Linked DNA regions of Homo sapiens: all the other regions are linked to region 2. The links come from fine-mapping of genetic effects on gene expression. A gene starts in region 2. Each other region holds a variant in brackets. All regions are shown on one strand. Distances are between the middles of the regions. Region 1 holds the start of LOC105374947 (a long non-coding RNA gene). Region 2 holds the start of DTNBP1 (dystrobrevin binding protein 1). Region 3 overlaps DTNBP1 (dystrobrevin binding protein 1).

Region 1 (8,690 bases), 140 kb before region 2:
AGCTGGAAGTGTCTGCGGACACTGGGGCAGGACGGGCCCCATGATGTGAAATCCCGGTGCCTTCCTGCAGGTGCCACGCTCTTCTGGAGAGGGGGGTCATAACAACACACAGCCTGTGCAGCTGGGGGCCGCTCTGAGTGGCGGAACTCCTGGCAGCAGTGCCTCTCCCCTGCTCTGCCCGCCTTCCCCACGTGTGCTTCCCACAGACTCTGATGAGGCTGGTTACGAGGAAGGTCGCCACATTGTGGTCATTGCACATTTGAGGCCACTGAGTGGGGTGGGTGCTGCGGGTATGACTGTGAGGGGCCTGGTGTGTCTGGGGGCCCAGGCAGTGGGGCCAAGTGGTGGGTCTCACTGGATAAGCCTTGAGCTAAATGATCGGAGAGCTGGAAGAAGAACTCTTTGCATCTGTTTTGTTTCAAAGAGCATGCTGGGTGAAGGCAGTAAGCACCTGCTGTGTCCCTCCTTCACCTTAGCAGCAAATGTCCAGGCACAGTTGCAAATAACGAAGCCTTTGCGGCTGAGCACGAGCATGGCTCTGGCACCTTGTGGGGGTGCAGGCGGCGGCACGGGGAGGCTTCCTCTGGCTGCCTGGAAAGCGCTCTGTGAATCATGGGTTGTACCTCTCACCAGCAGCCTGTTTCTGTAGTCGGATGTGTGACGTGACCAGATCCTGGGAAAAGAATGGCATTCAGGGGCTGTCTGAGACCTAATGGTTGGTTTTGATGAATTAGGAGCAAAGGTATTTGGAAACTGCATACTCTGTAGTGGCTGAGTAGTTCAGTAAGCATGTCTGTGCCTCTGTCCCCTGTTGAGCTGTGCATTTTTTTGTTTTTAAGACGGAGTCTCGCTCTGTCGCCAGGCTGGAGTGCAGTGGCGTGATCTCGGCCCACTGCAAGCTCCGCCTCCCAGGTTCACGCCATTCTCCTGCTTCAGTTTCTGGAGTAGCTGGGATTACAGGTGCCCGCCACTACGCACCCGGCTAATTTTTCTTTTTAGTAGAGACAGGGTTTTACCATGTTGGTCAGGCTGGTCTCAAACTCCTGACCTCAGGTGATCAGCTTGCTTCAGCCTCCCAAAGTGCTGGGATTACAGGCGTGAGCCACCACACCTGGCCCATTCTTTTAAATAGGAAATTTCTACCTTGTAAACAGAGACCATTGCAAAATCTTCTCAACCTCCCAGTGTGCCCAGTACACAAATCACCCATGTCTGGGCCTGCTGACCCGGGACAGTCTGCTTTAAACACCCACCCTTGCTGGGGTGGGGGGTGCACCTAGATTGCAAATCCCTGAATTCATGGCTTGGGTTCTCATGGATGGTGAAGCTCTCTGGGGAGTTTGGAGCCATTTGTGTCTCTGGCCCTTGCAGGCTGGCTGAGCAGGGTGTTGGGCCGCCTGCCGCCGAGCCTAGTGTGAGAGCACTGGTCTGGGGCAGGTGCTGCCCACCTGTCGAGCTGCACGCAGGGGAGGGAACGGTGTCCTCCTGTAACCGCACACTGCCGCTCCTCCTCACTTGTCCTTATGGTAAGGTAGCAGTAGCCGCCTAAATGGGTTTTATGGCAGCTCATCCACTTATCCTTTATCAGTGTTTATCATCAGTACCTCAAGCAGCCATGACTATGGTGTTATTACAGATACGTGTGGACCGCCCCGCCTTCCGAAGGCACCTTTAACTTGTGATGGGAGCCAGCTGTCACTTTCTCACCCTCATCTTGAGGGCTTTTCAGAGGACTAGAGATCAGGCCCTCAGATGTTTCATTCCATGGCTGGCTTCCTCTCCTGCCAGGGTCAGCATGGTTCCCAGCCACCCGTGGCCCAGAGAGATGCTCATAAGATGCACGTTTGCTACTCCTCCCCATGTTGTTTTTAAAAATGATATGATTATAGGATGTACTGTGTGAAAGTTACAAACACAGTTTTTGGTGCCGACAGATAAATGATTCTCTTGAGTGAATTACAAGGATATGTATAGGTTGAGAAGTGTTTGCATTTACTTGCATGGCCAGGTTCAGTGGCCGGTAGCTAAAGTGAGTCAAGTAGCTTGGGTATTTGTGTCACCATCCAGGATGTAACAAAGCCCCTGGGTCTCTTTGCTGAGTGCTCCGTGGTAGAGGCAGTGCTCTGGGCTCCCCTGCCAGCCCTGCCCTTATGAGCAGGCAAAGCATGGTGGACCAGGGTGTTGATGAGGATGAAACGGCCATGCCTGCTATGTGGCATCAGGAGGAGCTGGGAAAGGGAGACTCACTGCATCTGAGCCTCTCGGGGTTATTTTAAAACCTGTTGGTTGGTGTGGTGAAGGGGACCGCTGCCCTCTGCCCTAAACTTGCCCCTGCATGGCTCTCAGGGACAGAGCTCTTGTTAATACGGTATGTTAACTGTGTCTTCCTTTCACCCCCAAACAGGAACAGATTATCAGTCTGGTCAATCAGATCTGCGGCAAAGTGTCTGGTAAAAACGGCAGCATTGAGAACTGTCTCAGTAAACCCACACCAAAAAGAGGTCCCCGCAAGAGAGCGACAGTGGACGTGCCCCCCTCCCGTCTGTCAGCCTCCAGTTCATCCAAAAGTGCTTCGAGCTCATCATGAAGATGCCAACGCCCGTGGTCGATTTATATATATTTTTTTGTAATTATTATATTCTAGTTTGGAGTACTTGCTGTAGGATTCAAGCTGTCTTTGCACTAGCTCTAAAGAAGATTTTCTTCTGGTTTTAGAGAACTAATTTTGTTTTAGCATTAAACTGTTGAACTTTTTTTTGTACTTAGAAAACCTAGATACTGCAGTCAGATTTTGGAAACTGCCGTATAGTCACTGTTTTAAAAACCCCGGAGGGGCTGTATTAATTTGTATTGCCCCATGGCTGACAAAAGCCTTTTTTTTTGGTTTTGATTTTTTTTTTTTTGTAACTGTTGGGGGGAAAAAGGCTTTTTAACCCATTTTTGAAGAGGGTGAAGTTTGGAGAACAAATTTAAAAACCATCAGTCATGTGAGCAGATTTTTTAGAAGGGATAGGAGACACACGCGCACACACACACACACACGAAACTTGAAATGGCTTTGCTTTGGCTGTCGTCTTCTGCCGTGTGCCAGATGAGCTTGTGATCTGGGAAGCCGGGGCACCCCCGTTTTGTTTCTCTGGGCGGTTGTGGCAGCTGAAGGCGGACGTTGTTTCCTAACCATAGGTGGAACGAGGAGACGGGAGCGAGTGGGCTCTCCACCAGCACATCACTATGCATCTGTTCCAGGAAAGAAGAAAAGCGAGCGAGGAAGACGGAAAAGACTGCCTGCCTTGGAGGGGTCACATGAGGGAGACCTGTGCCTGATTTCATTAGGAAATCCATTCTGTTATTTTTTGGTGCTGTTGGCTACTTTATCAAAAAACCCTTCAATAGCATCCTTAAGATTTAAAAAAAAAAAAAAAAAAAAGGAAAAAAAAGTGATGGAAGCCGTAAGTGCTTCTTTGTCATCGACGTGCAATCTTTCTAACATTCCATCTCCATCTCACCGCTTCTTGTTTGACACCTTCACAAGTCAGCATTAATCTTTCTTTTAAAACTTGTTTCATTTATGATCATGTAGAGAGCCACTAGGAGGCCTGCAGTTATTTTTGAATGTGAAAATGCATTTGCGTTCATCTTGTCTATTTTTTCTCTTCATGTTGTAACAAAAAGGAAAAAAGAAAAAAAAATCCCATCCCTTTTGTACATATGCCTGTAAATTGTTTTAAATACTTGAGCCTTTTTCTCGGTGGGGGGTGGGGAGGGGGGTGAGAAGACAAGATGAAGAAAAGCCTTACATTTCAGTTTCTTCATCGGTTGGATTGGATGCTTACAGGGTTTTTCTTGTAACATTTATAAGTGCTGCTTACATCACTGAACAACAACAAAAAAATAATAATGGAGTAGCTGTTGCCCTTCTCCGGTTGTGTGTACAGTATGTGTGGAATAAAAAAGGGAAACTGTTTTCACAAGCTGTTCTTTGTTTCATAATTGGATTCATCAATCCCGTAGCTACCCATATTGCACTGAGCTTGCCAGTGGTGACTGCCAGGAACGTCCTATGATCCACTTTGTTGGTTGTTGTTGCAGAAGACTGAACTGTTTTGGAATATTTAACAATTACAGAAACAGTCAAGTGTTTTCCAATGTGGTTGTCCGGTTTCTATGGCCTTGCTGTGTACTTTCCCTCTTTTTGACAGTAAACTTCTGCCTATGGCTTACAGTTTGACATTTAATTTATTAGCGCTGCTCTGCACCCCTCCCTTGGGAGGGAGACTTCATGTGGTTTATTGCGAGTTTTTTGTTTACTTTTCAGGTTTGTACTACAAGGTTTAATAATAAAAACAAAGTTTTTTGGACATTTGTCTGTCTTGTGGAAGATGACTGAATGGAATGAGCTCTTTCTTTTCTCGTCCACGGGCAGGGGGCAGAGGATTCCCCCCAGCCAGGGAGCAGAGCCACCCCCCACACTGCAGTCCTGCTCCCACCTGCCACTGGGTCCCCTTCAGCCTAACCTAATGGTTTCCATGTGGCCTGCGGCCGTCCCCCTCATTTCCCATCGAGCTGCGCCCCCCTGCTGAGCTTGCTTTCATGATGAGACGACACTGGGTGCATTCAGGGTGGTATGGCTGCAGACAGACAGACCCCCTCATCCCGGCGGGGAGTCTGTCCCCTCTCTCTCATTGGGCTGGAGGAGTGATGGCAGGAACACATCTCCAGGGGACCAGTTTCTTTTCATAAAGAATGGAGGATTGCTTTGGGCTTGTTTCTGTTCTTTTGGGCCCAGGAGTGTGAAAAAGTAGGGGTTGGACTGGCTGGCTACTGGACTAATGATACTTACTTACTTCTGTAATGATCAACGGAAAACCCCAAGCTTTGCCAGAGTGGTTTGGCTACAGTCAGCTCTTCTACAGGAAGTGGCATTTTCCACTTGTGAAACGGTAGGTCATTCCCTGCCTCATGCAGAACTCAGCCCTGTGGAGCCTCCACCACCTGGCCCAGGCCCTGCCCACATGCAACCTCCCGGGGTGGCCCTCAATGACCTGCACGTCCCTTCACTCTAAGGAACCCTGAGTTACAGTGGCCTTAAGGACATGTGTATTTAGAAGCCTTTGTGTACAAACTAGCTCTGTGCGCTCTCAGTTTACCGTCCTCACACTTTATTGTTAGCTGTTCTTTAAGTTTCTCACACATTATTGGCAATTA[T/C]GTAAAAATCAAGAACCTCTATAAAACAACCTGGCTTTCCAGGTGGAATTCCGCATACAGCCAAAACTGGATTCCAGTGTGGCCAGACAACGCCCATGTCCCAATTTAAGAGTCGCTGTCCTCACCACCATCCGGAGTGGCCTCTCTGTCAGTGTGTGATGTGGCCAGGGCAGTGTCCACCTGAACTTCCTCCTCATCGGACTGAACAACGGGGGACTCCCCACCCTCACTGATGTCCCGGGTGGCCGAGTCGGTGCAGGTGGAGGAAGAAGAAGGTGGCTTGGCTCTTAATTCTGAGGGATTTGGAACCTGGAGGGTAATCTCATTCTGACAGGTACTGGATTCAGGCCCTGCAAAATAACGTAGGGAAGAAAAAGCCCTGTCATAAAAATATTGTGAATCAGAATTGCCGCCAACAGCTGTGGAATGTGCCCGTCATGAAAGGGGGGTGTGGTTTTTGTTCCAGGCACCTGGGGCCTGCAGAACTTGGGAACTGCCCTGGAAGACACTGAGCTGAGCGATGCCAGAGGCAGCCTCAGGCCCTGCGGTGACCCTTCTGTCCCCTAAGGAGTCAGCCACATGTGACACAGATCAAGTGCTCCTAAGGCTGTAATACGCGTGTAATAGAGGCCCAAAGGCAAGTGCTGCCTATCTTTGAGGAGCAGTCCTTGTAACCTTGATAATCTAGATTTCTTTTTTTTTTTTTTACCCTTTGCAGTAATTCAGAGACACCACTGCTGAGAAAGTCGGAATTACTGACCTTCAGCAGTTCTCCAATTTTATGGAACTAAATAGGCTCTTCAAGGAATCAAAATTCTATATGCAGGTGTCACTGTTTCTAAATCTTCCCCTGACTCTGGGTGAGGGTTCACGCTGGTCTCCAGTATTCTGGCCTTCTCAGGATGAGGGCAAATGCACCCAAGCTCCTTCTCTTCCCCAGGATGACACCGTTCTGACAGATTGCCAGGAGAAGCGGGTGAGAAGTTTAGAGGAAGCTGAAACCGTGGTAATGGTAGAACCTTCTACAGATGGCTGAGGTGCTGCTGGGACGACTGAGCTTTGCCTTGACCCAGCCCAAAGAACTGGTCTGAAATTTGAAACGCACCAAGCCCAGGTACAGGTCTGGCACCTCAGCCCATATTTGCTGCATGAATGTGAAACAAAATTTTGTGAAGGGATGAAAGGAACTGAAGTGCAACTAAGTTTACAACACAGGCCAAGAGCTGAACACACACCATGGCTTTGCCCATGGCAGGCACGCCCCTAAATGCCTGTCGCACGAAGAGGGAAGAGTTTCCCGTGAGCCCCGCAGGAGAGTCCGCACCTCCCTGCAAACGCCAGTCCTTAACCACAAGGAGCAGACTCAAATGGATTTCTGGGTGGTAAAGGAGGGAAAACAAACAAGAAAGCTCTCAACTCACCAAAGTTACCGGAGTGGAGCATGTCAAATCTTTGAGAAGAATTCATGACGGAACCACACCACTGTTGCAGCTGCCACACAGCCGTGTGGAACCGTGGGGTTAGGGAGCCAGGAGCTGGCTGTGAGCTTGGGGGTTTATGCGTAAGTGACTGGCAGATGGTTCTCACGTCTCACCTTTGGAGGGGAGTGGCATCGATACTGCCCTGGTTCAGCTAATGCAAGTTTGTCAACCCTACCTAAGGCGGGGGACAGCACAGTGTTCTCTTCTCCTCCAGAGTTCAGGAAGACGTCCAGGGCCTCCTGGTCCGATATGTCCATCAGGTCCATCTGCTCCAGCATGTCCACGTTCACTTCCATGGATGACATGCTGCCTATGGGCTCTGCGGATAGATCAACACGAGAAAGGACACGCTGTCTTTAATATTACTTTAAAAGGTGAACTTCCATTGGCATTAGGCTAACTACATTGCATTTCCTAAGCTTCCTTCAAAATGGAATTTGAAGCAACGTATTAGTAGATGACATATGCCAGTCTGGCACTTTAAATGCATCCTAAATCACCCTTGGCAACTATTATTACCTTTTACACTTCCTTAATCTGTTCATCCCCAGCCCTTTGGGACGCTGAAGACTAATCTCTGCATTAAGTGAGTCCCGGCTGTTTTGAGTAGGACGCTCAGCCTGTCTCAAAGAGGCCAACATTCCTGCAGCAACAGTTAGCGACCTTCCTCCCTGCCAGCCACAGCTCTGCTTCCTGCCTACAGGTGCCCTGAACCTTCCCGGCAGGCGCACTCCTCTAATTGCAAGTGGAGTTTCCACTGGCCTTGGAACATTTCTCGGGCCTAACGGCAGAAGGGGTTTGACCTACATCTGTAAGCTGTAAGAGCTCCCTGCAGTGGAAGCACAGACTAGGAGAAAACAAAACCCAGCCCACCAGCAGACGGCGACCCCATGAAACAGCACATGCCTAGTTGGCCTCTGCCCGGGCACTGAGCACGGGATGCCCCACAGGTCTTTACTCATAGGCAAACGACCTCTATGGTCCAGAAAACCACAAGCCACGTAAGTTATCCTAGCCATGGGGAATGCCTGGCAGAAGCAAATGCAAATTATTTCTGGAAGGACTCTCCCTTAACCTTGGTTTAAACAAAGTCAATCCCAACCCAATCTGGCATTTGTAACACACATGAAATGAGCCACTCCGAGTGAAGGGCAGCAGAAACAAACATCATCCTCGCTGAAGAATATGAGATGGCTGTTCATACACCACAGTCACAGGAAAGGTGAAGTCAAAAACAAGGTGTCAAAAATAAGGACAGACATTTGAAAGCCAAATAATGACTAGGTAGAAGAGACTGAAATCTCAAACTCGGGGCACAGTCACAGCCCAATAGAAAATTAATAAACTAGAAGGCAGGATGAGTAAATCTGCCATAATGCAGCATAGAAGAACAAAGAAAGGAAATACAAGAGAGCATAAAAGGTACGAAAGATGCAGAAGCGTAGCATCTGGTCACATTTCCCCGAAGCCAAGAAGGGGAGATAACTCTATTCAAAGAAGCTGATGAGTTTCCCAAATCGATGAAAGACCTCAGGACCCAGATTTAAAAAGCAAAACATTCCAAGCAAGATCAAAGCAATCTTCACCTACACCAATTGCTTTGAAGTTGAAGAACATCAAAAGACAAAGGCTCTCTAAAAGGCAGCCAGAGAGAGAGGGCAGGCTAAGAAAGAGAAGGAAATAATTAGGATGACAGGCAACTCATGAACAACAATAATAAAAGCCAGAAGACTGCGGAGTAAGTTCAAAGAGGAGAGAGAAATGTCATCTCTAAAATGGTGTAACATTAGGTATCGTTTAAGATCCAGGAGAAAAGCAGAGACCAAGAAGAAACACGTCATTATGAGCCTGCTCTCGCTAGAGGCATAGTGAAGGAAGGGCTGAGTGCAAGAAAGCATGTTAAGCAAAGAGACGTGTGAGTGTGTGAGTTAATGTAAAACCTGGAATGGAACAGTCATAACGAGGAGTCACCAAGGCCAAATTACCCTCCTGAACAAAGACACG
Region 2 (10,726 bases):
ACTGGCTCCAACCCCCTTTGTGTAGGTTTTGGTAGATACTACAAGGACGGAAGAAGACAGAATGAGGACACTGGGCAGGGGTGCAGGTGGGCGGCAGGGGCAGTGAGGGCTTTGAGGGGGAAACACCCTCTAGCTGCAACAATAGCAGGTTTTTTTATCCCCAACCACAGGAACCCAGTGCATCACAAATAGGAAACACCAGCCTGTGACAGGCAGCTGTAAACCCGTCAGTAAATCTGATTTTCAGTTCCCTGAAGGGTTTGCATGCCTAAATACCTCAATCCTGAGGCCTTTGGTCGTAACAGCTCAAAAGGTAAAAGTCAAAGACCAGAGTGGCTTCGAAGTATGTACTTTGGTATGTCCAAAAGTCTTCCCCAGAGCTCAAGCCAATCTCTGTAAAAATGGATATTTTATGTGAACTCTCCAAAAGGCTCCAAGAATTCTGACTCAGTTAAATCAAATTACAACTCACTTTAGGTGAGGGGAAAAGATCTTTGAGTGAAGCTCAGAACCAATCCTCTTCAGTCTGTGGCCTAAGGCTGGCCCACCACCCAATTAAGGCAGGAAGAATGTGATGTAATCACTAGTTTTTCTCAAGGTTGACATAATTGTTACTACGCATAAAAATTTACAAAAAAGGCCATAAGTCCATGGACAACCTAGAGCTCCCCCCAAACCACCAGTAATCTCTACACTGCCCTTAAAGAACAATGGTCTTAAGCTGCACTTTTTCAAAGTTTGAATGGAATGTAGAAATTTATTCTTATTGGACATGGTTTCATCACCAAAGTGACATTCTGAGACTGATAAGGAATCGTTCTATTTTACTAAAAATGAAAAAAAGTAAATTTATCTAGAGTTAGGGCCTTCATATGAGTTTTCAGAAAGTGAAAATGATCACAGAAGCTCCGAAGAGAGGATGCTGCTCTGGGCGACAGCGGGAGCTGCACTGGCTGCACTGAAGGAGCCCAGAAATGCCTGAGGCCTTCCATTCCATCCCTGGGGCAGCCTGCACACCCGGTGTTTCCAATTATTTTAGAAGGCAGCTGCTCTGGCTTCCACACAATTGCTCTGCCACCAAGTGTTCTACAGAAACGCCAGGTCCAATGTGATAGCTCTGGGTGGCCAGGGCCATGTTTTTTCATTTTTTCTTTCTTTTTTAAGAGATGGGGTTTCTTTCTTTTTTTTTTTTTTTGAGACGGAGTCTCCCTCTGTCACCCAGTCTGGAGTGCAGTGGTGTGATCTCGGCTCACTGCAACCTCCACCTCCTGGATTCAAGAGATTCTTCTGCCTCAGCCTTCCAAGTAGCTGGAATTACAGACGCACGCCACCATGGCCAGCTAATTTTTGTATTTTTTAGTGGAGACGGGGTTTCACCACGTTGGCCAAGCTGGTCTTGAACTCCTGACCTCATGATCCGCCTGCTTCGGGCTCCCAAAGTGCTGGGATTACAGGTGTGAGCCACCGCACCCAGCCAAAAGATGGGGTTTCTTTGTGTTGCCCAGTCTTGAACTCCTGGGCTCAAGGGATCCTCCTGCCTCAGCCTCCCAAGTAGCTGGGACAACAAAATTGTTGGAAGATTCCATAAAGCTTCCCCATGTGGCCCTTTAACAGTCGTCTGTTTTAAAAATTGGTTTTTAAACAGATTTAATGTGTGAAACTTATCTGATCTGGATTTGAACAAACCAACTGTAAAAAGTCATTTCTAAGCACAAAACAAATCTGATTATGGACTGCATAATTGATAATATCAAAAAATTAGTGTTAATTTTATTATCTATGATATCAGCATTGCATTTATGTAATATGTTTCTTTTTTAGTGATGCAGCTCACGTCTCTTTCATCTTTGAATTCCACATTACCAACATATAATAAACACATGTGTGCTGTGTTTAGCGTCATCTTTTCTCCTCAAGGCAAAAATAATCAGTTATGTAAAGGAGGTTGATCTCAAGCTGAATATGGAAAAGTTTAACCGAACAGCTTAAATGTAGGAAATTGAGGACCTGAAGAAAGTGAACATCAGGCACTAGAGGTCCGGGTCTACTGGGAGACTGACATCACTTGGAGATGAGTTGTTTCTCCACCAGGTGACAGGCTAATGGCACACACTGACAGTCCAGTGGTTTGTCAGCTGAAAGTGACCTGTACAGGAGAAAGCCAACAAAAGACCTAATGAAGCCCTCTCAGGATGTCTAGCTCCAAAATGGCCCCAGACTACGGCATCTTTAAGAAGTCAAGTCAGTTTCCAAGGGGTTCTAACTAGATCCCTTTGGCATGTCTCTCCTTAACTAACTCTAAACGTTTAGGGTTACCCTGATCTCCCAGGATGGTTTGTGCCCCAGCAGTCCAGAGCCCACTCCAGAATCTACATTCCGGGGTAAAATGCCTTCTTACAAAGGTCAGGAGCATGAATGCTTCTGAGGCAACCATGTGACCTAGAGTTATAGTAACTACAAGATGGGCTCTTGTGCCATCAAGGAATTCCATGAAGTACTAACAGGAGAATAATGGCCACTCTCATGCTACAAATGGGCCATTTCAGCATCACACCAAAAAGTTTTCAATACAATAATTTACGCTCTGAAAAGAAGGTACTTTTACTAAATAGGGAGAACAAAATGCAAGCACGCAAGCACACCCATCAGTGAATGACTCCGAGCGTCCATAACTTTCTAAACACCAAACTAACAAAAATGATTGACGCATGGTAAGTGCTCAAGCGTTTGACAGTTTGTTATTCAACGCCCAATGTGCAAATAGTATTAACATTTTTGTCCATTAAGATAAAATTTTGGCTAACATCTTTCTCATTAGAAATTTAAAACGAGGCTGGGCGCAGTGACTAATACCCATAATCCCACCACTTCAGGAAGCCTAGGAGGGAGGATCTCTTGTACCCAGGAGTTGGAGGCTGCAGCGAGCTATAATAGCGCCACTGCGCTCCAGCCTGGGCAACAGAGCGAGAACTTGTCACTTTAAAAAAAAGGGGGGGAGGGTGGGCCGGGAACGGTGGCACACGCCTGTAATCCCAGCACTTTGGGAGGCCAAGGCGGGAGGATCACAAGGTCAGGAGTTCGAGACCAGCCTGGCCAATATGGTGAAACCCGTCTCTACTAAAAAATACAAAAATAAGCCGGGCGCCTCTAGTCCCAGCTACTCAGGAGGTGGAGCCAGGAGAATCGCTTGAATCCGGGAGGCGGCGGTTGCAGTGAGCCGAGATCACGCCACTGCACTCCAGTCTGGGTGACAGAGCAAGACTCCATCTCAAAAAAAAGGGGGGTGGGGGGGAGAAATTTAAAACAGTATGAGTGGAAATGTTCTCACATTCAGTGCATCCTCCAACAGGATTTGTAAGCTAAAGTTGAAAGATCCTTTTCAAAGACAGATCTTTTTCACTTTAAAGGAATGAAAAAATTAAAATTAAGCACTAAGTAACAATACTGACATGATGCTTGCTTCGTGTTTTACACATTAATTCATTAATCCTTGTAATAACCTTTTAAGTACCATCATTATCCCCATTTTACGGTAGCGGAAACAGTACATTGAGGCAAGGCAGCTGAGTAACTACGTTTGATTTAGTGGTCGAGCCAGGATGCCTAGGCAATCTGGCGCCAGAGTCTCGGCCTGTGGTTCCCAGGCGTTGGTGCCCACTGGAATCCCCTGGGGATCTTTAAAACGCCGTCTCCAGGCACTCTGGTCAACAGGTAGGGGGTGAGACCTGGGCATCAGAACTCTGAAAGGTTCCCAGGTGATTCTAAGCAAAGTTTGGGAACCGCTGGGTATTAAAAGCATTCCTAAAGTTCTGTCGCTTCTCCTGCTTAGGAGTTCCTTCGCCGAGGCGCTGAGCTCACGGCAAAGGTAGAGAAAGGACGCAACGGGGAGGGGCGGCCAGCCTTGCCAAGGGTTAGGCCGGCGAGCCGGGCGTGAAAGCCGAGACGCGGCGCGGAAGGCTGTGGCCGGAGGGTGCAGGCTGCTGCGCGGTGCGATCCGACTCGGGGAGGGTGGCTGGCCCAGCTCCAGGTGCGCACGAGCAGGTGTCTGCTGGGCCGAGGGGCGCAGGCCACTGTGCCGCGGGGGCGGAAGCGGTGAGGCGCGCTGGCTTCTCACATGACTTCCCTCCAGGGCCCAGCTGATGCTGCCGGGAAAGGACCGCAGGGTCCCACACCCCCCCCGGGCGCTCCGCTGCGCCGCCGAGCGCCTCCCGGTCCTGGGGGGTGCGCGTCACAGGCGGCCCGCAGGGACCTAAGTTACTTTGCGCCGCCCGACGCGAGGACGCCGGGAAGTTCGTTACTTTCCTCGGCGGGGCGGGGCGGGGAGGTGCGGGACAGGACGGACCCTGGACCGTGGCGCGGGGAAGGGAGCGAGGCAGGGGCATCCCAGGCGGCGGCCCGGCCCCCTCAGGTCCCTTTTCGTCGCCCACCGTATACCCACCCGGAGGTGAAATCCTGCTGCACGCTCAGCAGCCGCTCGCGAAGGGTCTCCAGCATTGCCGCCGCCGCCGGTCTCCTCTCCTCAGGCCTCGGGCTGCTGCTGCCTCTGTCGCCCCCTGGGTCCCACGCCGCCAACCCCGCGCTGTCACCGCGCGCCCCGCACTCCCACTACCGGCCCCGCCCCCGGTCTGGTCCTCGCCGCCGCGCCGCAACCCCAGCCCCTTCCGCGTTCCCGCCCCGCGCGCGCCAGGCTCGCGCAGCCGCAGTGGACTGCGCCGGGCTCGGGCTGCGGAAAAGGGGCGGGTCTTCCCCCGACCGAGAGGGCCAGTAGCTCCTCGGCTCATTCCTATCCCGCACCAGGCCTTCTCGTTTTTTTTTTTTTTTCTTTAAAATGGAAGCGGCATCGTGAAAGGATGATTTAACTCGAAGCCTCCTTTGAGGGAAGTGTTGGCTTTTACGTTTTGGAAGAGAATTGGATCTCTCTCTTCAATAGGCGATGTGCACAAATCATTGCATGGATTCTAGGTCCAGGATCTGACCCCACTGGCTTTCACCTTGAATGAGACAGTCAAATATTGAGCCTCGGTTTCTTCATTCATAAAATGGCAATAATAGTCGACTGTCTCGACATTCTTACTTTCCACTCTCTCTTTACCCCCCCAGGCTTTTGTGCCCTACACACCAAAGGTGATCGCCTTTCGCGAGTCACCAGTGACTTCCATGTTGCTGATGCCTTTTATTACTTCTCTGCCCTGATTTTTTCTCCACCTCTCAGTGGCTTTCAATGCAGTTTATCATCCCCATCCTTAAAACACTTTCTTCTCTTGCTAAGCACTCCATAGTTCCTCTCTCCCTTCCGCTCCACCCCTTCTCCTATTTTAATAGCCACTCCCAAGGCTACAGTCCAGCCTCCCCAGCTCTTCTCTCTTCTCCAGATGTGTTGTTCCATAGATGGATAGCATAGAGTCTATCCATTACCACGCTGTAAATTCTGTCAAGGAACCGATGACTCCCACAGCTCTATCTTCTGCCCTGTCCTTCCTCCCTCTCCGTCAATTCATACCAGTTGCTTACTCATGTAAGCATGTATACAACATGTATCCAAAAGGCATCTCAGACCAACATACACAAAATTGAAAATTTCATTCATTGCATGTTCACCTTTAATCTGCTCATCCTGTATTTTCCGTTTCAGTAAATGACACCACCATCCACCAATTTGCTCAAGGTAAGACACTTGAAATCACCTCTGGTTCCCCTCTTTTCCTCATTCCCCATATTAACCCATCAAATCCAATCAACTCTACTCCTGAAGTATTTCTGGAACCTCCTTCTCTTTCTATATCTTCACTATATTTATCCTGGTCGAAGGCACCATCCTCTTTCAATGGGAACACAGACAGTTCTTCCAGATTCTACTCTTTTGCCATACACACCCCTATAATCCATCCTTGACACAGCAGCCAGAAAGAGTTATTTAAAAGATCAATCGGATCACGTTGCTCCCCTGCTTAAAATCTTCCAATTGCCTCCTGGGCACTTGGAATAAAATTCAAACTACTTACCCCCTTAAAAAGCCCTAAAATTTGAATGTTTTCTAGCACTGTATCCAAATTGATTACTAGTCACCTATCATGTCCTTGACAATTAAGACATAATAGCCTTTTTTTTTTTTTTTTTTTTGGTGTGTTCTTAGAAAATTCCAGGTTTATTTCCACCTGTGGTGTTTTCACAAACTTTTCTCCAAACTGTCCCTTGTCTGGCTCCTTATAACATAAGGGTCACATCCTAAATAGCATCACATTAGATAGGTTTTACTTACCATTCAAGTTACACACCCAATCACTTCCTATCACGTAGCCTGTTTCTCAACTTAGTACACATTAGAAAATTTATTCAATAATTATTTGCTATTTATTAATTTAGTTGTTTACAAACATATTTTAAAACCACGACAAATAAGGCATTCACCTCAGGTACAAAATTTACGGGAGCCAAAAAGCTCAGTAATCAAGATAAGTAATATTTTAATACAATATTTAAAAAATTCAAAATTAATGAAAAAAAATCTGTGATGAACAAAATATCAAAATTTTAAATACACAGGATCTGTTAGGGCTGGGATTGGATGAGGCCAGTGAGGTAAGTAGCACAAGTACAGGCCCAGATGTAAACTGCTCTGTCTTATTAAGCTTTGCATCCCCAGCAATGAAAACAGTGAATGGCACATAACAGACACCCAGTAAATGTCTTGTTGCAGGAGTTAAATAAGATAAAGGACTTAGCTTGTAGCTGGGGGACCACCTCTTCCCCACTCTTGATGTTTTCTTCCATGGGAAGGGAGCTCTTCTGCTAACATAAAGAAGTACCCAGCCTCTCCTGGTGGGGAAGAGGTGACTACGATGATTAGTGAGCTAGAAGTAAGGAGCTTGGTCTCATCTTCTTTTCTTTTTGTTGAGTGAACACTTCCAACAAAGAGCATTCATTCTGCTGCCTAAAGACAGGCTTGAAGGGCAACCCAGTGCTTTTTGTGACTGGGTACTAGAAGTTCTGCTTGCCCATGAATATAAGCCATGTGTTCCATCAGTCTTCCTAGATATAAAAGTGATATTTTGGCCTCTTTATGCTGACACTATTGTTTTATTTCTCAGTTTGCTCAGACAAGTAAGAAAGAGGAGTGCTGTTTATTGAGCCTTCTTCTACCTCTCAGAAACAGTGCCTGGAACAAAGCAAGTGATCAAATGATCAAATCTACAGACAGGTCCCTTAGTATCTAGTAGATTTGAAAACCACAAGTACTGGGAAATATTAAATTTTTTTCTTTTATTCAATTAAACTCTACACATAAGCTTTCAATTTACTAAGTTTCATACATTCCAACAAAGCACCAAATCCACTCAAAAAAGACTCTTGCCTGTCACTAAAAAATAGCTTTACTGGTTGTGCCTGATCATTTCTGTCTTGACCAATGCACTGTTTATTAGTCTATGGCATGTTTGTATTTGAGGTGCTTTCTGAACATTCTTAATTCCATCATATCTATTAAATTAAAAAACAGTGAAAGTTTTAAAAGTGCTAATAAAAAGATAATTTATGATTTAAAGAAGTAAATATTAAAAAAATTAGAAAATAACTACTGTTGTACATGAGTTGCTCAGGAGGAATGATTAAGGACCAAGAGTTGAAGCATGTGACATGTCGTGTTTACATAAGTAACAGTAATCAGCCAGAAACTAGGAAGATGGATTGGCAAAATGAAAAAAAAAACAAAGCTTTTAAGTACAGTTTGAGAACCAACATCAGTATGGAAGCTATTGACCTAATCTTAATTCAGGAATTGGTTGAGAGTTGATTGTTGTTTGTTTGGGGTTTTTTTGTTTGTTTTGTTTTAAGACGGAGTCTCCCTCTGTCACCTAGGCTGGAGTGCAGTGGTGCAATCTTGGCTCACTGTAGCCTCCACCTCCTGGGTTCAAGTGATTCTCCTGCCTCAGCCTCCTGGGTAGCTGGGATTACAGGCTTCCGCCACCACGCCCAGCTAATTTTTGTATTTTTAGTAGAGACAAGGTTTCACTATGTTGGACAGGCTGGTCTCAAACTCCTGACCTCAAGTGATCCGCCTGCCTTGGCCTCCCAAAATGCTGGGATTACAGGCATGAGCCACCGCGCCCAGCAGAGAGTTGATTTTTTGAGAGCATATTAGTTGCGCCCAGGAAAAGCTTTGGTGATACAACGTTTGGGGTGAGCACCAAAGCTGCTAAGAAGTTTCCTGAAATAGTGCTTCCCTGACCAGCAGCAGCCGCATCATCTGGGAGCTTCCTGCAAAGGTAGAATCGTAGGCCCCAGCCAGCCCTACTGAATCAGAATCTGAGTTTTATTAAGACCCCCCGGGTGATTTTTATTCATGTTAACATTTGAGAAGCCCTACTCGTTGATGAAAGGGGGTTTCCTGTCTCAGCAGATTCTTATTGGAGACAAAGTGATAAATGAGGATTTGGCGGAGTTAGAACCAAAGAGAAAGATGCTATTAAAGAAGGGGTGGTACGAAAGAAACCACCATCAGAGCGAACAGGCAACCTACAGAATGGGAGAAAATTTTTGCAATCTACTCATCGGACAAAGGGCTAATATCCAGAATCTACAATGAACTCAAACAAATTTACAAGAAAAAAACAACCCCATCAACAAGTGGGCAAAGGATGTGAACAGACACTTCTCAAAAGAAGACATTTATGCAGCCAAAAGACACATGAAAAAATGCTCATCATCGCTGACCATCAGAGAAATGCAAATCAAAACCACAATGAGATACCATCTCACACCAGTTAGAATGGCGATCACTAAAAAGTCAGGAAACAACAGGTGCTGGAGAGAATGTGGAGAAATAGGAACACTTTTACACTGTTGGTGGGACTGTAAACTAGTTCAACCATTGTGGAAGTCAGTGTGGCGATTCCTCAGGGATCTAGAACTAGAAATACCATTTGACCCAGCCATCCCATTACTGGGTATATACCCAAAGGACTGTAAATCATGCTGCTATAAAGACACATGAACACATATGTTTATTGTGGCACTATTCGCAATAGCAAAGACTTGGAACCAACCCAAATGTCCAACAATGATAGACTGGATTAAGAAAACGTGGCACATATACACCATGGAATACTATGCAGTGAAAAAAATGATGAGTTCATGTCCTTTGTAGGGACATGGATGAAGCTGGAAACCATTATTCTCGGCAAACTATCGCAAGGACAAAAAACCAAACACCGCATGTTCTCACTCATTGGTGGGAATTGAACAGTGAGAACACATGGACACAGGAAGGGGAACATCATACACTGGGGCCTGTTGTGGGGTGGAGGGAGGCGGGAGGGATAGCATTAGGAGATATACCTAATGTTAAATGACGAGTTAATGGGTGCAGCACACCAACTTGGCACATGTACCCTAAAACTTAAAGTATAATAATAATAAAAAAAAAGCAGGAAAAAAAAGAAGGGGCTGTAGAACCCAGAAAAGTTCATACCATTTCATTGGCAGAGCTCTTTTAGAGTAATTGGAAAGGGACTATGGTTAATTGCTTTGCAGGAACCTGACTTAGATTTGTAAAGATATTTACAGTGTGTTGTTATTATTTGTGATGTTTTTAAAAAGCCAACATGTAAATATTTTTGATATCTTTAATTTTTAAGAGTTTAATGGTTACAGAAGAATCCATGTAAAAGCTGTAAATGTTTCTCGTGAAGCAATGAGTATTTTTAAGAATGAGGTAAGCTAGATAAAGCTGGAAAGGTGATATCAGCACAGCATTTTGAAAAGAAAAGCAGAGACAGAAATCAGGGAGGTGAAGGAGGAGAGTTCCAACCTCAGAGAGTAAAGATTAGAACGCAGCTGAAGAACAGGAGAGAAGGGGGTAGTTAGAGAATATCAAGGTCGGAAGACAGAAGCTATAATAATAGATCTAGACGGCAAGCACTGTCGGGAGTGACAGCAAGGTTGGAAATGAGTATTTTACCTGAGCTGAACGGAAAGAACAGTAAAAGGATCTCAGCTGCATCTATTTGTGTTCCAAAATTGTATCCCACTGTCATAAAATGACTGGGCACCTAACCTTATCTTTTTGCTCAGATGAAAAAAGAAGGCACTACACTGTTGCATTAAAGGAGGAAAACGTTTATTTTTTGTTAATATGTGTTTAGATCTATATAATCTATAAAGATACATTACAGGAGGAAAACTTTTATTTTTTGTTATTCTATGGTTGGATCTATATGGTCTATAAGATATCCATAAACGACCAAGTGACTCCATTCATCAAAGCGTAGGGACTCTACATGAGTAAAGGAAACCACGTCCTGTACTCTTACAAATAGATGGTTCCCCCAGAGAGAATACATCTCAGAAATCACATCTTCTGAACTACTGTGCCATAGAAATATATTTGTGTGGGAAAACTTAATAACAAACTGAAACTCTTTAATAAGAATTAGTGGCCAAAAAAAAAAAGTTTGAGACAATGATTACTTAGAGCTAACTATCAGGTCAATACATGCTGGTGGGGGAGCCGTAATAATTGATCATTAGTAGTTAAAATAATTGATGATTATAATTGCAGTTAAGTAATAGTTTTCAAGCCTGGCTGCACCTTCAAATCACATGGGGAGCATTTTAGAAATACCAGTGCCTGACCTCAGCACCCCCAGAGCACCTGGTTTAACTGGTCTAAGGTGATGTCTCCTCCTTCATGCGGTTTAAAAGCTTCCCTGGTGATTCTAACATGCAGGCA
Region 3 (8,000 bases), 82 kb before region 2:
CGGAGAGCTGGATAAACCAGTCTAGAATTTAGGGGTGAGGCCAGGATTGGAGCCAATAGCATTGGGTGGTATTTAAAGCCTTGGGACTGAATAAGAATGCAGGAGAGAAAAGGCCCAAGGATTAACCCCAGAGGCACTTCAACATCTCCGGTGGGAAGGTAAAGAGCTTGGACTGAATCCTGAAGTGTAGTTCTCCAAGTGTAGTTTTCCAAGATATTGTAGCCAACATAATTTGGGTGGTAATGTCAGTTTTATTAGTCATGTGTTTACTTTTACAGGCAAAAGGGATTAAGGAAAAGAATAGTGAAGTATGTGGACAGTACGAACAACTGCCAGACGATTCTGCAGAGAGGTGAGCACTGATGGTGCAGAAGAGAGAGGACAACGCTGCCAGAGCAAAGCCCTTAGGCAGGAGAGAAGGAAGGAGTCCAGCGCCTACACTGAGGGGCTTGCTGTGGAAGCAGGGACAGTCCCCACGGTGCCAGCGAGGAAGCCAGAGTAAGCCGACGCTGGGAGGAGGGGGTGTTAGTGCAGGGAGCACAGAGCCCTTCTCTTCTGACTGCTTCCAGTTCCTCAGTGAAATCAGAGGAAAGCAATGAGGAATGGGATCAGGGAGGGGATGTCCCAGTTTGAGAAAAGAGCATTCTCCTAGTGCGCAGAGGGGAATGTACTAGGATTGCCAGCCTGGATGAAGGCTTTCTAGTGAATTGTGGACAACATCTGAAGTGAGAACTCAGGAAAGGATGTTATGTTTTCTTCTAGCTACATTCAGCTGCTCGGGGGCATACACCATGCAGGCAGGATGGAATTTAACCAATTACATTTTTTCCAGCAACAGAGGGAGAGAAAAGTAAGGAATTATTGCATAGTACTAAAAAAATTAATGACTTATATGGCAAAATATTGAGTGGTCATTTCATGCTGTAAATCAAAATAAGTTCTAGATTAAGTAGAGTTAAAGTAATAAGTAAACTATAATAAAAACTGGAAGAAATAACAAGCTAATATTTATTTCTTAGGATTGGGAGAGAATCTTCCATGCAGAAAAGCAATGGAAGGTATCATTAAAAATATTCATTTGATGCCCAAAAGGTATGTGAAAAAAATGCTCAACATCACTAACCATCAGGGAAATGCAAATCAAAACCACAGTGAGGTATCATCTCCTACAGTCAGAATGGCCATTATCAAAAAGACAAAGGGTAAGTGTTGGTGAGGATGTGGAGAAAGGGAAACTCTTAGACACTGTTGGTCAGACTGTAAATTATCTCAGTTGTTATGGAAAACAGTATGGAGGTGCCCCCAAAAAACTAAAAATAGAATTACCACGATTCAGCAATCCCACTACTGGATATTTACCAAAGAAAAGAAAATCAGTATTTTGATTAGATAGCTGCACTCTCATGTTTCTTGCAGCACTATTTACAAAAGCCAAGATATGGAATCAACTAAATGTCTATCGACAGATGAATGGATAAAGAAAATGTGGTATGTATACACAATGGAGTATTATTCAGCCATAAAAAAGAACAAAATCCTATCATTTTCAGCAACATGGATGAGCCTGTAAAACATTAAGTGAAACAAGCCAGGCATAGAAAGACAAGTATTGCATATTCTCACTCATATATGGAAGCTAAAAAACTTGACTGCATAGAAGTAGAGACTAGAATAGTGGTTACTAGAGGCTGGGAACGGAGAGTTAACCAGATGTTGGTTAACAAATACAAAATTACAGAGAGGAGGAACAAGTTCCTGTGTTCTATAGCACTGTAGGGTGACTATAACAATTTATTGTATATTTTCAAATAGCTATAAAAGTGGATTTTGGCCAGGTACGGTGGCTGACGCCTGTAATTCCAGCACTTTGAAGGCCAAGGCGGGCAGATCATCTGAGGTTAGGAGTTTGAGACCAGCCTGGCCAACATGGTGAAACCCTGTCTCTACTAAAAATACAAAAATTAGCTGGGCATGGTGGCAGGCGCCTGTAATCCCAGCTATTTGGGAGGCTAAGGCAGGAGAATCACTTGAACCTGGGAGGCGGAGGTTGTGGTGAGCTGAGATCGTGCCACTGCACTACTCCAGCCTGGCCGACAGAGTGAGACTCCCTCTCAAAAAAAGAAAAAAAGAAAAGAGTGAATTTTGAATGTTCTCAATGCAAAGAAATGTTTGAGGTGATAGATATGCTAATTATCCTGATTTACTCATTACACATTACATATATGTATCAAAACTTTACAGTGTACCACACAAATATGTACAATTATGTGTCCATTTAAAATAATAAAAGCAAAACAATTCATTTGAATAAAAAATATTACACTTCTGTGTGTAATAACCACGCAAAATTAAAAGGCAAATAATTAGTTGAAGATAAATATCTGCAATAAATATGACAATTTGAAACCCTTAATATGTAACCCCTTCATTCAAATCTACAAGTACACTAAAACTGCAACTGAAAGCAGCCAGAAGCAAAAACAGTTCATAACAACAATAAAAAGCCGATAAATCACATTTTACCTCCCGTCACACCTCAAACAATAATCAAATTTTATTTTTGCTTTCATATTAGTAAAGACAAGAAAAAAATACTCAGGTGAGGGTCTATGAAATAGATAAAGTCACAGACATTGCTAATGAAAGTATAAACTGGAACAACCCTTCTAAAAAGCTAACGATGAATACACACCAAGAGCCTTAAAAAATGTAATACACTTAGGCTGTAAAAAATTGTGGCCCTATCTATGTACGTATAGAGATGCTTATTACAGCACAAGTTATGCTTAGCATAAAACTGGCAACTACCTAAATTTCCAACAATAGGAAAACAGTATGTTAATGACATGAGGCAATGCTCATTTCATAAGGGGAAAAAACAGGAAACAAAATTGTTTGTATGCTATTCCAATTTTGGATGATATGTCTATATATGTGTGTGTGTATATAAACCTCAAAAATGTTTGAGGCTATTGCAGACTAGTGATTCAATTTTTTTCCCAGAAGCTTTTTAAATTTTCCTGTCTTCAATGGGGATGCATTGCTTTTACAGTTATTTTAAAAATAAAGACTAGGGGCACTTTCATGTTAAAAAGATCTGGGCATTGTAGTTAAACATGAGCTGACTGGCAGAAAAGGTGACTAAAAAGCTATAGTCACAGTCACCGTTTCTAGAAGACTGTGCAGGTACAAACACCATTTTTATATGGGGTATTGGAAAACTAGCATGGGTCTAGACAAGAATGACCAGGAGAATAAAGCATCTACAATCAGCTACCACGAAAAGAAAAGGTCAAGGAACTACAACTCTGAAGCCTTAGAAGGTTGGTAGAGAGTGTGAACTGTCAACACACCACGTAAACACCTTCAGGACTGCTCATAAACGGACTCTACATGGGACGAGGTGTTGGATGACAGGACTTCAAAGTTTTTCTAAGATACAATGGCTAGAAAGAAGTAGAAAAGGGGAGACTGCCAGAAATTCTTTTTCTGTTTTCTTTTTTTAGACGGAGTCTCACTCTGTGGCCTAGGCTGGAGGGCAGTGGCTCCATCTCGGCTCTCTGCAACCTCTGCCACCCAGGTTCAAGCAATTCTCCTGCCTCAGCCTTCCGAGTAGCTGGGATTACAGGCACCTGCCACCACGCCTGGCTAATTTCTGTATTTTTAGTAGAGACAGGGTTTCACCATCTTGGTCAGGCTGGTCTTGAACTCCTGACCTCGTGATCCACCCGCCTGGGCCTCTCAAAGCGCTGGGATTACAGGCATGAGCCACCGCGCCCGACTGTTTTTTTTTTTTTTTTTTTTGAGATGGAGTCTCGCTCTGTCACCCAGGCTGGAGTGCAGTGGTGAGATCTTGGCTCACTGCAACCTCTGCCTCCCAGGTTCAAGCACTTCTCCTGTCTCAGCCTCCAGAGTAGCTAAGACTACAGGAGCATAACACGCCTAGCTAATTTTTGTATTTTTAGTAGATACAGGGTTTCACCATGTTGGCCAGGCTGTTCTTGAACTCCTGACCTCAGGTGATCCACCTGCCTTGGCCCCCCAAAAGTGTTGGGATTACAGGCATGAGCCATCGCGCCCAGGCAGAAATTCTTTTAAAACTGTTACGCAGAAATCAGCATCTGCAATAGAGAAGATTTGACTTTAAGAATGGTCAAATATTTCCTGTCCAAGGGGGACACAGTGTGCAGAGGGGAGCTAGAGGCCTTACTAGTCTTTCTTCTAATCCTGCCCTGAGCTTCAACCCACATCTCAAATTCAGAGGAATCTTTCCAGGGTTCTGCAGCATAAATCAGCATCTTTTTTTTTTAAACACTGGGTTTTATTCTTAGAATAGCCCTGTATTAAAGGAGCATTACACAGCAAGACCAGGAAGCAGTTCAAATACAGTTAAAGATGAAATCTCAATATGCTACTTAGCTATTCAAAGTTTGCGGTATAGAAAGAGAATGGGGGAAAGGGACTGGATATAAATGCAATACCTAAAGAACACTGAACACTATGGAAACTCAAAACTTGTCTAAATTCTATTGTTTACATTTTAGCACGTCCCAGGAATGACTGTGGTGAAGTGAGAAAAACACAGGTTTTGAGGGCAGACGTTCCT[G/C]GGTTTAAATCCCTGCTGAAATGCTTACTAGCTGGGTGACTTGTTTAACTCTCTAAGTCTCAATTTTCTCATCTCACAGGGTTGTTTTGATACTACTTGAGATACTGTGGTACTAACTATGAAATGCAAAGTACAGAGCTAACACATGTACATGCCTAATAAGTAGTTTCTTTTCACTAATTTATTAGAGTTTTAATAGAAATAAACAGAATTATACTTATATACCTATAATGGTATGACTGATATTCTGTGCCACATTAATTTTACTAAATGAAAGAAAAAAATCCTGGTGGTTATTTATTTTTTGATCACATCATTGCAATTACTACGATAATTCTTATTACATATACTTTTATTTTCAGTTAAAAATAAACATAATTAGAACTGATGAGTCATCTTCATGTAGTAAGTTTCTGACTGTTCAATTCCATTTTATCTACCATAGTATTTATTTCATAGGTTTTCAAAACTGGAATTAGAGACTTGAAAGTGAATAGCATATTATTAAGTATCCTATGCTACTCTTTTATACAACACTTTAAATGATTCTTAAGAATACAAAGGGATATTAAATAGTTCAATATTATTCCAATGCTTCTTTAGTTATTTCCCCTATCTTAGGGTAAACACCATTTTCCTTCTCAAATAAAAACAAATTAGCCAAATTTCAAATGCTGATTCATTTTATTTTATTTTAGAGACAGGGTCTTGCTCTGTTGCCCAGGCTGGAATGCAGTGGTGCCATCATAGCTCACTGCAGCCTCAAACTCCTGAGCCTCAAGTGATCCTTCCACCTCAGCCTCTCAAGTAGGTAGGGTTACAGGTGCATGCCACCATGCCCGGCTAATTTTTAAATTTTTTTGTAGAGCGGGGGTCTCATTATGTTACCCTGGGCTGGTGTCAAACTCCTGGTCTCAAGCGATCCTCCTGCCTCGGCCTTCCAAAGTGCTGGGATTACAGGTGTGAGCCACTGCTCCCACCCATATACTTATATTTATGCTATAGGCATACCTTTACAGGGAAAGCCAGATGAATATTTAAGTAGGAGTGAGAGTTTCTCAGCTCAGTTGGCCACTTGACTTCTCCCCTACTCTAGAAGTTTATAAAAACCATTAGGCAACTACCAATCTTCTGAGAAAAGTACAAACTCCATCCCAGTTGCCTTCAACAGTTTAATCAGCAGAGCTACAAGATCCCACAGGTTATTTTCCAGCACACACCTCTAAAAAGCTAAGACAAAATCATGAAGCTCCATATGAATTCAACAGACAAAGTCTCTTGTTAAGGCTGACAGCTAAAATTTTCAAAGATTTCTTTTTGTGGTTTTAAAATTTAGTTTTCTGAAAGGTATAATTTTTGCTGTCAAGTTATACCATGTTCCAGCAAAAAGGTAATGAAACAGAATAGCTGTATTTATTCATGATACCAAACATTTATGATAGACAACAAAACGTTGTCCTGATTCACTTCTAAAATACTCTATTGCTATAATTATTGATCATACAATGGTGGTATATGATCATTACAAGAAATCCCAGAAAAGTAACATTTAAGCATCACAACCCTAATCTTGATGCTCTATTTTTATGTAGTTTAATACCTAAACAAGCTGTTAAAGTGCCAATTCCCCTTCAATATAGAACATCGTCTTAGAGAATTTCAGGTCATGCCCAGTATGACAACTTAAGACATGGTATTAGAATAAACAATCAACTCCGTCTTAGAAATAAACTGTCTTAGAGCCAAAATTAACAAACAGGATATAAATATTTTGGTATTACAGGATATAGATACTAACTTTATTTAAACACTGTTACATAAATATAAGCCAGCTTTTAAAAAAACGAATATACACTTAACATATATTGACATATGAGAAAAAGATGAGCAGACACCTCAAAAATCTTGCCAGTATTTACCAACAAATCATGATTTTCAAGGAGCAATTTCTTAGATGAATGATCTAAAATATTAAAATTGAATATCAGATTATACCTATATGCAGATCTTTACTCTTAGAACCATTATTTAAGATAATGACTGAGAGAAGAGAAAATATGTCATTTATCATACATTCCCTATAAGTAAATACTTTAAAAATAAATGCCAAAGTTCTCACTGATAAGTTTTTTCCTGAACACTTAATAATGAATAAGAATGTGGTAAAACCTCTAGTTAGAATTTGATTCCATTAATGCTCCAATTTTATAATGAATTCCTGAGCTATCATTTTACTTCTGTTAATATGTCTATCTAAGCTTGAAAGGTTTTGCTATGTTATACATACACAGGCGTGAGAGAGGGACACAAAGAAGGAACTTTTCTCTTAAGTTTGATATACCTTATTCAAATTTGTAATATTAAAAAGAGAATAACCTTGATAGATGAGAGACAACATGTATTTCTTTTTTTTTTTTTTTTTTTTTTTCATTTACAGAGAAGTGGCTTCTACCTGACAAGGCATGATGTATATAACATGCCATAACGTATGCCAACTAAAAGAAATAACAGGGAGTTTTAAAAAATGCAATCACTATTAAAAATTATTCCTCAGTTACCACCCCCATGGATAGTACAATAAATTACTCAACAAAAAATGCACAGTTAATTTTTCAGGTATTTTTTGCAGTAAGTTCCACAACTTCAATATCCTTATATATGTATTTATATATATATATAAATACCACACAGAGATGTCATTAAAACCACAGCCTCTGGCTAACAGATAAGGAATACACTGAAGTTATATGAAATTATGAAAAGAATATATATATATATATATATATATATATATATATATATATATATATATTCAACCTGTATGAAGCATTATGACATTTTTCAAAATCCATATTGAAAATCAGCCATTTTAGATAAATCCATATAGTACCATAGAATGAATTTTAACTTTATACTATCTTTGGATATGGCTCACATATTTAACTCTATTAACTGCCTCTTGGAAAATGAACATACTAGCAGCAAGGGATGCCGAATTAGTTTTATGGAGCTGTACCAGCCTCATTATTCAAATAGCTAGTATTATTTTCCTGGTATTTTATATTTATCTTTTAATACAAATATTGCTTCATAAAAAATGTCAGTTTGATTAATTTCACCTGATGCATGAAAAGACACATATTGTAAAAAAAAAAAAAAGTCCTACATTTCCATGCAACATTTTAAACTTATTTTAGGTATTAATTTAGTAATTATTACTTGTTGGTAATAGAAAGAACTAATAATGCTCTCATAAAAATGTACTACTTGTAGGTTCAAGTCAAGTTGAAATTTAATTTCTGCTTTTTAATAATATATCATCTGCATACCATGCAAATACAGCAATGTATCCAGGCATGGAAATAAACATTTCAAAGGAAAGCAGCAAAGGAAA

Evidence for each region.
Region 1: its variant is fine-mapped to the expression of DTNBP1 in caudate (GTEx, PIP above 0.99). The same link has a PIP of 0.9 or more in anterior cingulate cortex, cerebellar hemisphere, cerebral cortex, hypothalamus, nucleus accumbens and prefrontal cortex.
Region 3: its variant is fine-mapped to the expression of DTNBP1 in whole blood (TOPMed, PIP above 0.99).

Annotation. Positions count from the first base shown.
Region 1 is chr6:15,517,665-15,526,354 of GRCh38, forward strand. It overlaps JARID2 (jumonji and AT-rich interaction domain containing 2), which reads left to right. Exons shown (of 18, transcript NM_004973.4): 18 at 2,405-4,378. The coding sequence ends at 2,587. It overlaps DTNBP1 (dystrobrevin binding protein 1), which reads right to left. Exons shown (of 10, transcript NM_032122.5): 9 at 6,862-7,005; 10 at 5,143-5,555. The coding sequence ends at 5,311. LOC105374947 (a long non-coding RNA gene) reads left to right here and starts at 8,670. Exons shown (of 4, transcript XR_007059475.1): 1 at 8,670-8,690. RefSeq lists an enhancer at 1-163 and a silencer at 5,370-5,556. The variant T/C (reference allele first, on the strand shown) is at 5,206.
Region 2 is chr6:15,658,376-15,669,101 of GRCh38, forward strand. DTNBP1 (dystrobrevin binding protein 1) reads right to left here and starts at 4,653. Exons shown (of 10, transcript NM_032122.5): 1 at 4,439-4,653. The coding sequence starts at 4,494. RefSeq lists an enhancer at 3,860-3,909 and a silencer at 4,140-4,649.
Region 3 is chr6:15,577,695-15,585,694 of GRCh38, forward strand. The region is part of intron 7 of DTNBP1 (dystrobrevin binding protein 1); the gene reads right to left. Among named protein-coding and RNA genes, the nearest start is that of DTNBP1-AS1, 36 kb to the left of the region's middle. RefSeq lists a silencer at 5,590-5,790. The variant G/C (reference allele first, on the strand shown) is at 4,607.